2 separate regions of the Homo sapiens genome follow, and region 2 is linked to region 1. Evidence: fine-mapped expression QTL. A gene starts in region 1. The other region holds a variant in brackets. All regions are shown on one strand. Distances are between the middles of the regions. Region 1 holds the start of TMEM163 (transmembrane protein 163). Region 2 overlaps TMEM163 (transmembrane protein 163).

The links.
Region 2: its variant is fine-mapped to the expression of TMEM163 in whole blood (TOPMed, PIP above 0.99).

What each region holds. Positions count from the first base shown.
Region 1 is chr2:134,716,282-134,721,655 of GRCh38, reverse strand. TMEM163 (transmembrane protein 163) reads left to right here and starts at 2,656. Exons shown (of 8, transcript NM_030923.5): 1 at 2,656-2,922. The coding sequence starts at 2,721. It overlaps LOC105373629 (a long non-coding RNA gene), which reads right to left and starts at 3,544. Exons shown (of 2, transcript XR_923354.4): 1 at 3,089-3,544. RefSeq lists an enhancer at 1-630 and a silencer at 2,333-2,572.
Region 2 is chr2:134,674,766-134,680,139 of GRCh38, reverse strand. All of the region lies in intron 2 of TMEM163 (transmembrane protein 163), which reads left to right. Among named protein-coding and RNA genes, the nearest start is that of TMEM163, 42 kb to the left of the region's middle. The variant G/A (reference allele first, on the strand shown) is at 2,322.

The DNA.
Region 1 (5,374 bases):
AGGAAGGTTCCCAGCCAGATCCCAGATCTATTGAACCAGAATCTCAGAGAGCCAGGGAGGAATAATTTTTTTTTTTTGAGATGGAGTCTCGCTCTGTCGCCCAGGCTGGAGTGCAGTGGCATGATCTCAGCTCACTGCAAGCTCCGCCTCCTGGGTTCATGCCATTCTCCTGCCTCAGCCTCCTGAGTAGCCGGGACTACAGGCACCTGCCACCACGCCCGGCTAATTTTCTGTATTTTTAGTAGAGACGGGGTTTCACCATGTTAGCCAGGATGGTCTCGATCTCCTGACCTTGTGATCTGCCCACCTTGGCCTCCCAAAGTGCTGGGATTACAAGCGTGAGCCACCACGCCCAGCCAATTTTTTTTAAGCCCCCAGATGACTCTTAGAATGGGGAAGTGCCTTACAAAATACCCATGCCAAGGTCCCAGCCAAGAACGATCACGTTAAATATGATATCAGAATCTCTAGCAGTCGAAGCTTCGGTATTTTTGTTCTTAGACTCCCCAGGTGATACTTTGAGAGCCATTGACAGGGGGATTAAATGGGATAGACTGGAGGAAAAAAGTGGAGGAGATGACTCTGCAAATATATCTGAAGGATGTTCTACCTTAGAGGATAGAACCAGGATTAATGGGTAGAGATTTTCATTGTCTTTATCCAAGTAATCATAGCATTTTTCTTTTTCTTTGCAGCAGGAAGGGATCTTTGAAATGACGTAGTTCAACTCTTTCAATTTGTAGTTGAAGAAATTAGTGGTCAACAAGGTAAAGTAAGTTGGTCAAGGTCAACTCAGATCTTCTCATTCCAATCCAGCAACAACAATAATAACAGCAGCAACAAAATAAAGTAAGACCCCTCTCCCCATTTCTGGTGATATTTCCAGTGCACCACAAAGGCATTTAAATCCTACTCTCATTTCAATCACAAGCAAAGCAGACAAGAAAAAGGAAAAGGGTGACTCTTCAAGAAACGAGGAGGACTCCTTTAAATGAGGAATTGACATTTTGGAGTACCCGGATTAAATTCAGAGACTGAATCAATCTAAAGACGAAAGCCGGACTCTAGAGCTTGGATGTTGATACCATTGAAACGGTAGGGGCAGAAAAGGTGTGATACTTTCCTCCCCATCATAAGGGGCACGGCAAACATGCTTATAACAAAAGATAGGCTAATAAGAGAAAAGCGTAACAAATTTATTGAATCAAAGTTTTATGTGATACAGGAGCCTTCAGAAATGAAGATGCAAAGACTCAGGGAAAACTGCCTGTTTTTATGCTTAGATTCAGTGAAGAATGGACAGCCTTATAGAAATGTGATTGGACAAAGGGTGTGATCTAATGGTAATAGACTGAGGGTTGAACCCAGCGAGGCCTGTTCAGATTCTTCTTGGCCTCTCTGTGCAGCATGTATAGAGCAGGACCTCTTCTGGAATGAGGGTCTCAGGATCTACTATCAGACAAGGTAGGTCTGAGTATTTCTTCATGGCCAGCTCCTACACAGAAAGGCAGAGGACCAGGGAGGTTGGAGTACTATTTCTAGGTTGTATGACCACCGTAGGGAAGAGGAATTCTGGTTTCTGTGAACTGCTTAGTGGGGAGAAAGTCGGGGGGGAGACAGACTTTGTTTCTAAGGCGGCTTCAGAGGCCTGTTTAGTTTTTTAGTTCAAACTTAGCATACCAAAGTGCCATACGTTGGGGTATACTTTTCTGAGCCTCAACAAATCCAAGCTGAATTTATTAAACAGCAGGTCCTCTTTTGCTCCTCTCTGGGCATCAAGAGAGCTGGCGTGTGCCCTGCGGTGGACTCTCACTGGTGAGATCAGCCCCACCGCACAAAATGAATTAAGAGCTGCAGGGGTCAGAGTAGGGGAGACTTCTCGTAGAAGGGAGGCTTCCATGGATTTCTGAAGATCACACAAGACTTAGATGAGCAGGGGAGCGAACTGTATGGGACAAAGGCCCAGGAAGAGTCGAAATGGGGAAGCCTCGGAGTTCAAGCATCTTCTATAGCGCCCGCTGTCCTAAAGATACCCCATCCCTGGCTAAATGGGTGCTCCAGGGAGAAACTGGGAGGGGAGTTAAAGCTCCGAGAAGGACGGAGAGCGACGGGCTTGGGGACAGATGAACCCTTTTTCCCTGGATGAGCAGTGAGAATGGAGGCCCAGGCGAAGACCCTGTACAGCCTCTGAAGCCTGTGCAGCTCCAGAAGAGAAAGATGCCAAATTAGGGGCGCTGTCTGCTACCCACGCGCGGCCGCGGGCTTCGCGGACCCCAGAGGAATCCAGTGGGAGGGGTCCCCTCTGGGCACCATCCCGCGGCGCAGGTGGGGCGGGTCCCCGCTACGCCCTAGCCAAGCTCTGCCAGGGCCGCCTGTGGGTCCTCACGCTGGTTCCTCCCTCTCGTCCGCCTCGGTGCGCCGGCTCCCGCGCCCGGGCCTTGGGGCGGGTCCCTGCCGCCCGCACCTGCCCCCAGGGGCGGAGCGCGGCGGCAACAACGCGGCCCCAGCCTCCGCCACCGGCCGCGGAGCCGAGCGGCTCTCCGCTCGTCCCCGCCCCCGCCCGTGCACCTCCACTCCGCGGCGCCCGCCCGCCCTCCCTCCCTGTCCACGCGGCCAGTCCGTCCGCTCCTGCCCCCGCCAGAGCCGCGGCGCCTCGCACTTCTGACTCGAGTCCCCGCCGCGCTTGTCGTCGCCGCCGCCGGGATCCGCAGCCCCGCGCCATGGAGCCGGCCGCGGGCATCCAGCGCCGCAGCTCCCAGGGGCCCACCGTCCCGCCGCCGCCCCGGGGCCACGCGCCACCGGCTGCCGCCCCCGGCCCGGCCCCGCTGAGCTCCCCGGTGCGCGAGCCGCCCCAGCTGGAGGAGGAGCGGCAGGTGCGGATCAGCGAGAGCGGCCAGTTCAGCGACGGGCTGGAGGACCGAGGTGAGCGCGAGCTGCCCGACCCGGCCGGCGACCGGGGTGGCTGCTCGGGGCCCGCCTCTCCCCACTCGCGGGCCGCGCTGGGCGAGGCGCGGGGCTCGGAGCGCGCGGGGGCGCGGAGCCCCGACTTCCCGGCGAGAACGCCGCTAGCCGAGAGCGGCAGCCCCACCTTCTGCGGCCGGCACCGCCTCGGCTGCGGTTCCTTCCCTCGAAGCCCAGACCCCAGCTGCCTTCAGGCCGACCCCGCCTGGACTCGCGCCCTCCTCTCCGCCAGCTCCAGGCCCTCCGGCGCCCACGGGAAAAGTTTGCGGGAGGCATTTTTTGCGTTCGGAGTCGAGCGCTTCTGGGCCACTCCGGGCCCTACTCAGCTCGGAGGGACCCAGGCTCGTTGCATCCTCCTTTCCGTAGTCCCCTGCGGCTCCGCCGGCTGCCTGGGAGAACTTCCCTCTGCGGGTGTAGCCGCGAGATGTCCCTCGGCGGCCGCCCGGCTGCCCGCCCCGGCGAAGGGCGCAAGGAGGGGAGCGAGCCGGGACTCGGGCGGCCTCTGGTCTCGGGCAGTCCCCGATTCTAATCGCGGACGCGGGTCACAGTGGGTCCCTGCCCCGTCGTCTCATGATGGGGCAGAGGAATGGGACATTTGGATTTGGGCCACCAACCTCATCTGGATGGATGCCACTGAAACCTGATGTTTCCGGAGGGCGCGTCTGCAGACCCTTCAGAGCTCCCCTCCACTGACACTGGCCTGGAGGTCAGCACACTTGCCTCTGCTGGGAGACCACACTCTGCCTCCCACCGACTGCCGATGCCCCCTTGAGTCGCCAGTGTAGGACGGGAGAGACTCCCTGCTCGTTCCCGCGTCTCTCTTCTCCATCCCTTCCGCGTTTCCTTTGGGCTTGGATTCTTTGCAGAGGGAGCCCTGTTCTTGGCCGCGTCTGCACCTTTTCTACTTCTTGCTGAATCCGAATCCAAATTGTCCCCCTCAGAACGAATCTGTGGTTCTGCTAAAACCGTTTAGTGGCCAAAGAGGGATTCTTGCAGCCAGGCCCTTTAGGGGAAGCCGGCTCTTTTGCACCTCCACCCCCTTTTCTTGGAAGCCTTATTTTGTTGGCTATGGCGGGTTTATATATTTTAGACTTAGCAGGTTTCTGTCCTATTCTTAGTATCTCCTGTACATTTTTATTCCGGTTTAGTGTTCGGATGCACGATCTCTTTCTCCTTAGAAATTCTAAACTGTAGCATGTGAAATAAAATGACATGGAAACGGCAGTTCCCAGAGAATCCGCCTAGATGCTCAGCGAGAACTGGAGCTGCTCCAGTGGCAACGAATTCTGCACCTCTGTTGCAGTTTCTCCCCCTGTTCTCACATAACTAGATGCCATTTAAGAGGTGAGGACAGGGGACATCACGAGCATGGAACAAAACCTCTCACTTTTATTATAGGATGTGTTCATTACCTTTGCCCCTCTCCAGCTAATATCGTAGGATTTAAAAATTCCATATTGAAGAAAGACAGAAGCCTGGGTTGAGCTTATTTTTGTAGCATTGCAGGTCATCTCTAAGAGCTGGCCTGTTTCTCCCTACCCCACAAAATGATAGGAGGGAAGACAGTGCTAGGGTGAGTTCATATTTAGCATCATTTTGTAGTTCATGTTCAAGTGTAAAAAGCCCTTCTGAATTCATTCTTAAGGTTATTTTTCTCTGGTCAACGGAATTTCATTTTCCATTATATGATAGCATGAAAGCATTGACTGTTCGTAAACTGTCACTGTTTGAGAGCGTGGCATATCACACACAGCCTCTCTGTTAGGATGAACCCTATTCGCCAAAGAACCCGGTGCTGTGTGGCATTGAGAGCTGAACGTCAATGTGACATTCTTTTGTTTGACCTCTTCCTGATGGCAACCAGTATGTGGTGAATAAGTGATTTTTGTTAAGTAAACGAGAACGTTACCTGGGGAGGTTTACTGTAAGATTTTGTGTTTGTTGTTTCTGTTATTTTTTTTCTTATGGGGCTGCATTTTTCCAATATTGATTTTTATATCCTTTGGGAATGGGTTGAGTGCAGCTACCTCTTTCCTGCTGGTGAGAGGAATTGGGGAGGAGGAAGCCCCAGCACTTGCCTGCCGTGTGTCTCTGCATCCTGCCTGGCTTGCTTTCTTTCAGGCCTAAATACCTATAGGCTGTCTGTAGAGGGGTTGAGGGGTACCTCGGATCTGCACCTGTATTTGGCATTCTCTTTTGTCCTAACTCCCTTTGGAGCTATCAGGATGTGGTTCCAGACCACAGTTAACTCTCATCAAAGGTTTGCTTTAAAATCTAGTGTTTTGAGACTTTGGAGGCATTTGCGCCTTAGAAATGATGTGGGCTGGTTCTCAGAAACCTAGCTAGCTCAGAATGTCAGTAACTGCAGTGCCATCTGGTTGAACTTAAAGCTCAGGGAGCAAGAGCTCTGTGG
Region 2 (5,374 bases), 42 kb after region 1:
TAGTTAACAGGCTTCTGAACAGTCAGGGTCTTGCCTTAGCAGCCTGACTTTCTCAGCCATCATGCCACCTGGCCCAGAGCCATGGAAACTCAGGTTGCCTGTATTTTCTGAGCCTTCTGTATGCCTGGATTCCTTGGTATTTTTGTTGGAATTAGCACTTACAGAACAACTTAAAGTACGTTTATTCTGGCAGGTATAGGGTGGAGCCATTAGGGTTGCTGGGGAAGCCGGTGTGGTTAGAGAAGGAAGTCATGGCTGAGTATCTGGGCAGGGTGGGCGGGGACCTTGTGGGTGAGCTCATCACTTCCCCATAATTCAGCTGTGGGGTGGTGGTGGGAGCTGGCGACGAAGGTCTGGGATGTTTCTAGGCAGGGCACCTCTTACTAGCTTTGTTACCTTGTGTAAGATTGAGTATCTCTGCGTCTCTTTGGTCATTTGTAGAATGGGTTTAGTTATCCCTATCTTAAGTCCTTTCCAGGATTAGGTGTAAGAATCAAATAAAATGTCTTCGAAAGCTCCTGGGAAGCTCCTGAATGCATCTTACCTTTTTGCAAGCACTTACTTACAAAGTGCTCTTCCTTCCAACCCAGAGCACTGCGTCGCTCACTTCTATCACTCTGGTGAATTGTTCTAAGTGTAAATTCTCACAGGGGCCAGGCAGGTGTGAAAATGATTGAAGTGGGTGGCCTAGGCAAGGCCATGACATATATCTGTCACCTACTTGAAATGCCAGTCTTGTTTTCATGGAAGGAAATCTTTCCTGATCTTATGATGCATGATGTAACGTGCATGAGTTTGTCCTAGAGTCATGGAACAAACACATGAGGCCAGACATATATGTATAGTCATGTACACATATTCATGAACCGCAGGGCTGCTGTTCAGTGAGTGCGCCCCAGCATGGCTCCGCTGATTGTTAAAACACCACTTGGTAATCAGCCACTGCCCAAGCCCCTTACCTCCATCCTTGTGTCCCCCACCCCAGATCCTCTGGATGTCCCTATCAGCCAGCAGCTGAAAGGGCTGAGGCCTGGCCTGGTCTCTGGGACCTTCCCTAGGCCAGGGACAGACACTGTGCCTTATGCCTGACAGGGGCCAGAGCTCTGCTCGTTGTTAAATATGTTGATTGTCACCTCTGTGGACAAATCCATTATTTTCATACACATAGGTAGATATTGGAAGAGATTTTCTGCTTGGTGAAAGACTGACATTCAGCAGTTGAATTAATAGCTGTTCTCACATACAGGAGCCTCATTAAAGTGTAGCTTATCCACTTGAAGTTAGAACAAAATAGCTTTATAAAAATTCAAATTTTAAAGCAATGAAAAACCAATAACTTGAGATGATTAATTTATTCTGCAGACATTTATTGATCACCTGCTTTGTGCTTGGAAAAATAATACAAATGTGCCAGGGCTTGCTATTGCTTTTGGTACTTGCAGCCCAGTCGACCTGGGGAATGGGAAAGGACTCCCCAGGCTGACACAGCTTATGAGTAGCAGAGACGGGCCTTGAGCCCAGGTCTGAAGATTCCAGGGCCTCTGCTCTGACCTTCAGCCTCCCTCTCAGCGGATATGTGGAAGGAGAAGGTGGAGATGGCACAGTCCTTTCCTCATCCTGGTGGGAGGATTTATATGTAAACTGGGAAAGTCCCTACAATTGTATTTTATTTACAGAAAGACAAAAGCCTTTTCCTGTTTTTCTTTTCTGAGACCATTTGCAACCCTAAAGTCTGAAAAGGCAGCCAATGAGAATAACAGATTCACGTGTTTCCACGGGCTTGAGAATGAGACAGGGCGTACTGCCACTGCTTTGACCTTGAGGCTCAACAGCCATCTGCCTGGATTTACACAGTGAGATTGCTCCCTGTCCTGGCGCTCGCACCCCTCGGATGTAAAGCCTCGGAGTTCCTGCAGTCACTCTGTGGCTCCCTTTACCCGTGGGTGTTTGCAGCTGGACTCAGAAATGGAGCAGATGTGATAAAAACGACTTTAAATAGCCCAGTGCAGTCCAGGAAAATGGACGTTCTGGAGCAGAAGCAGCAGAATCAATTAGCTAGGGTCGATCTGCTTCCCTGAGACCGGAAAGAAACCAGGACAAAGAGTGCACTGCAGGTTGTGTTGGGCATTGCTGGCACGCCTTCGTTTTTTGTGCTTGGCTGCGGGTGGGCTTACTGGAACGTGGAGGGGTGTCTCCTGGCCAGAGTCTCTCCTTACTGTCAAACTGTATGTGGAGAACTCATGGCCTCATTAGGTCGGTCCTATGTATCCAATGACATTGGAAGAACTGCTGCCCATTTCATTAGGAACTGTTGACACAGG[G/A]GTACATTTATTTAAGAAGACAAAGATTACAGAGTTAATTACTACAAAATAATATTATAGAAGTAACACATCATTTTGGAAAAAATGGGAAATAATCCTCTACTCTTCTGTATCTCAGGGACAGCCATTTTAATATTTTTTGTTCATTCCTACAATCTTAATCCATTTTAAGAAACGTATAGCTATGGTCATATTATAGATAGAGTTTTTATACACTGCTGGTCTTGGGTGACTTTATTACAAAAAGACTTTTCAGAGACAGAAAGTACCTTCCCCCTGCTCCCCGCAAGAGGAATTTAACTTTTTTCTTTTGCTTATAAAAGCAATACATGGCTTGGCTTAAAAAAAATCCAACTATATTGAAAGCCAGTAGTTTCTTTATGATTCAAAAGGCCACTGCCACTTTTATTTTTGTCTTCTCCATGCCTTTTCGTGTGTGGATTGCATAAGCTTTTTTCTGTAGTCTTTCTCTTATAAGGAGTGGGATTTGGTTCTGAGGGAGGGGGTCTGGCAAGATCAGTTGCTGACACTTCAGAGACGCCTTTAAAAATAGCTCCATGTCGCAGGCCAGCGGGCCTCACTGCTCTGCAGCCTCCGTCCCAACGTGAGGGTCTGAAACCTCTTCAAAGCCATAATTCTCTGCACGCCAAAGCCACGAGGTCTGCGGAAGGAAGCGAGAAGAGCAGGGTCGCCGGAAGCTGACCTGCTTTGATTTGGAGCATCACAAGTTACACTCAGGGAGTGTGGACATTTTCATAGTGTTTTATCTCTCTCTCTCGGGTGGGCTGCATCTGGTTAAAATGTCTTCTGCAGAGAACTGTAGAAGAAAAGCTGCTGACAGAAAGCATCAGTACAGACTCTTGTATTTTTTTCCTGCCCTATTTATGGTGGTTTATCAGTTGGTTCTACAAGATAATCATGAGGGTAGTTAATTTTCTCATTTAGCACTGGCTCCTATGGTGCTTATCCATTAAGGTCTGTTCGTCTCAAATATTTTTATGTTTAGATGTATATGTATGATATTGTATGATATTGATTCCATTTATGTGAAGTCTTGATTCTATTTATGTGAAATATCCAGAATAGGTAAATGTATAGAGGCAGAAAGTAGACTAATGATCGCCTAGGACTGGGGCTGTTGAGGGACCGTGAGAGGTCACTTCCAAGGACTTCCAAGGACAAGAAGAATGTTTTGGGGCAGAGGAGTGATGAAAATGTTCTAAAATTAAGTCTGCTGATGGTTGTACAGTTCTGAATACACTAAAAACCATTGAATTGTACACTGGAAATCAGTGAATTGTATGGTTCATAAATTGTATATCAATAAAGATGTTAAAAAATATGAATATTTATATATATATCTATATCTACTGCAGTACTAAACAATGCAGCCAGTGTATCACCCATTGGAAGGGCATGTCCCTTAAAGAGAGAACAGACATGTAAGAAACAACACTTTACCCATAGGAATGAGTGGAGATTCAGGCCTCTGAAGATTATTTTTTATATTTCTGAGAAAGGATGGAGGGCTACTCAATAGTGCACTGGAGTGGGCTGGCTCACAAGAGCTGATGGTTACATTTTCAGTATTTTGCAAGCTAATTGACGTCAAGTTGGTAGCTTGAAATTGGCAATGGGGAGAGTGTATTTACACCATAGAAATTGGCAAATGCTGCAAGTCGGGGCCTTTTTTCCTCCCAGAGAGCCAGTGAAACATTGACCATCATGCCACTGGCCCCATTCTGTTGTACCTTATGTCGCAGGTCAGTTTTACTCCAGGCAATTGAATTAAGAGCTGAGCTTAGGAGAACTGTCTTGATGTGGGGTGGGGTGCTCAGGAGGGCTGACTGTGAAATCTGCTAGGCTCACATTCCCTCCACCAGGAAGCATCTGGCTAGCTAACATGTCTATTTAGGGTTGGGGTGCTGACCTGAAGGGCCTCCTGTTTTGGGGGAGTTATGCTCTGTGGATAGTCTGCTAATCATCAGTGATTGCTTTTGCATGGCCTTTCTGCTTTTGAGAAAGAAAAATTTGATTCCTAAATCCTGGGACCGGATTTGTTCATTAGTGCTGCTGTTTCACTGGAGGCTGCCCTGTTGGGAGCTCTGGATGAAATTTGCAACAGTAACTTGTGAAGCTAAGCAACAGAATCCACCTTACTTCTTATTCATCTTCTTTAATTTATTCAATCTGATTTAGGCTTAGATATCTAAAAGTCATTTTTTTTTCAGACAGGGAATATCTGAATTATTCATATCCTTCTCATATTATGAGCTGAGCATATCGGTCCCTTGAGAAATCATTGCCACATATCTTACTGCTGTTCCCGTGTGTTACTTTGTCAACATCTCTGAGTGAGATTAGTCATTAGATGGTCAGGCACACTGGAAATTGTGGAAATAATAAAGGTTTTGAAAAACCTCAGGCGATACAAGTGGCTAAAGTTTAAACCCAGATATAAATTCTCCTTATGCCTACATGGTTTAGATTTCTTTCACTTGTTGATTATTTTTTATTAAAAGGAAAAGTCACTGCATGATCTGAGTGTTTTATTATAGTTTACTAATATTTGGTGTGTATTTTTTCCTTCTGTAATGATCAAAATGAAATTTTAACAGGAAACTTTCCTGAGAATGGATCCTTCCCCAAAATGGAAACATTCATGTGTTTCTTTTCGATAATACATATTGTAAAATTCAATCAGTACATAAAAAGTAAAAGTGATGCTTAATCCTGTCAACCTGAATAAGAAACAGAGAGAGAGGCTCTCTAAATGAAAAAGATATTTACTCGGAAATGAGCTTTGCCATGGGAGTACACTTGCCATAGCAAATTATGTACGTATTCAGGGAGGTGAAGGAACACAAAGGTTTTTTAAAGGAACATGAAGAGGGTGACATAATTGTTTTGAGATAAGTAGCTTTGGCTACAAAGATCAATAACAAGGGTAGTGCCAGTCTGAGGTTGGATAGGCAGTTGCTGGGTAGATGTCCTTGCAGAGGTATTTTTAATGTAAGGTTGTGAGGGCCTTTGCGCAAGATTGTGGTTTTTGC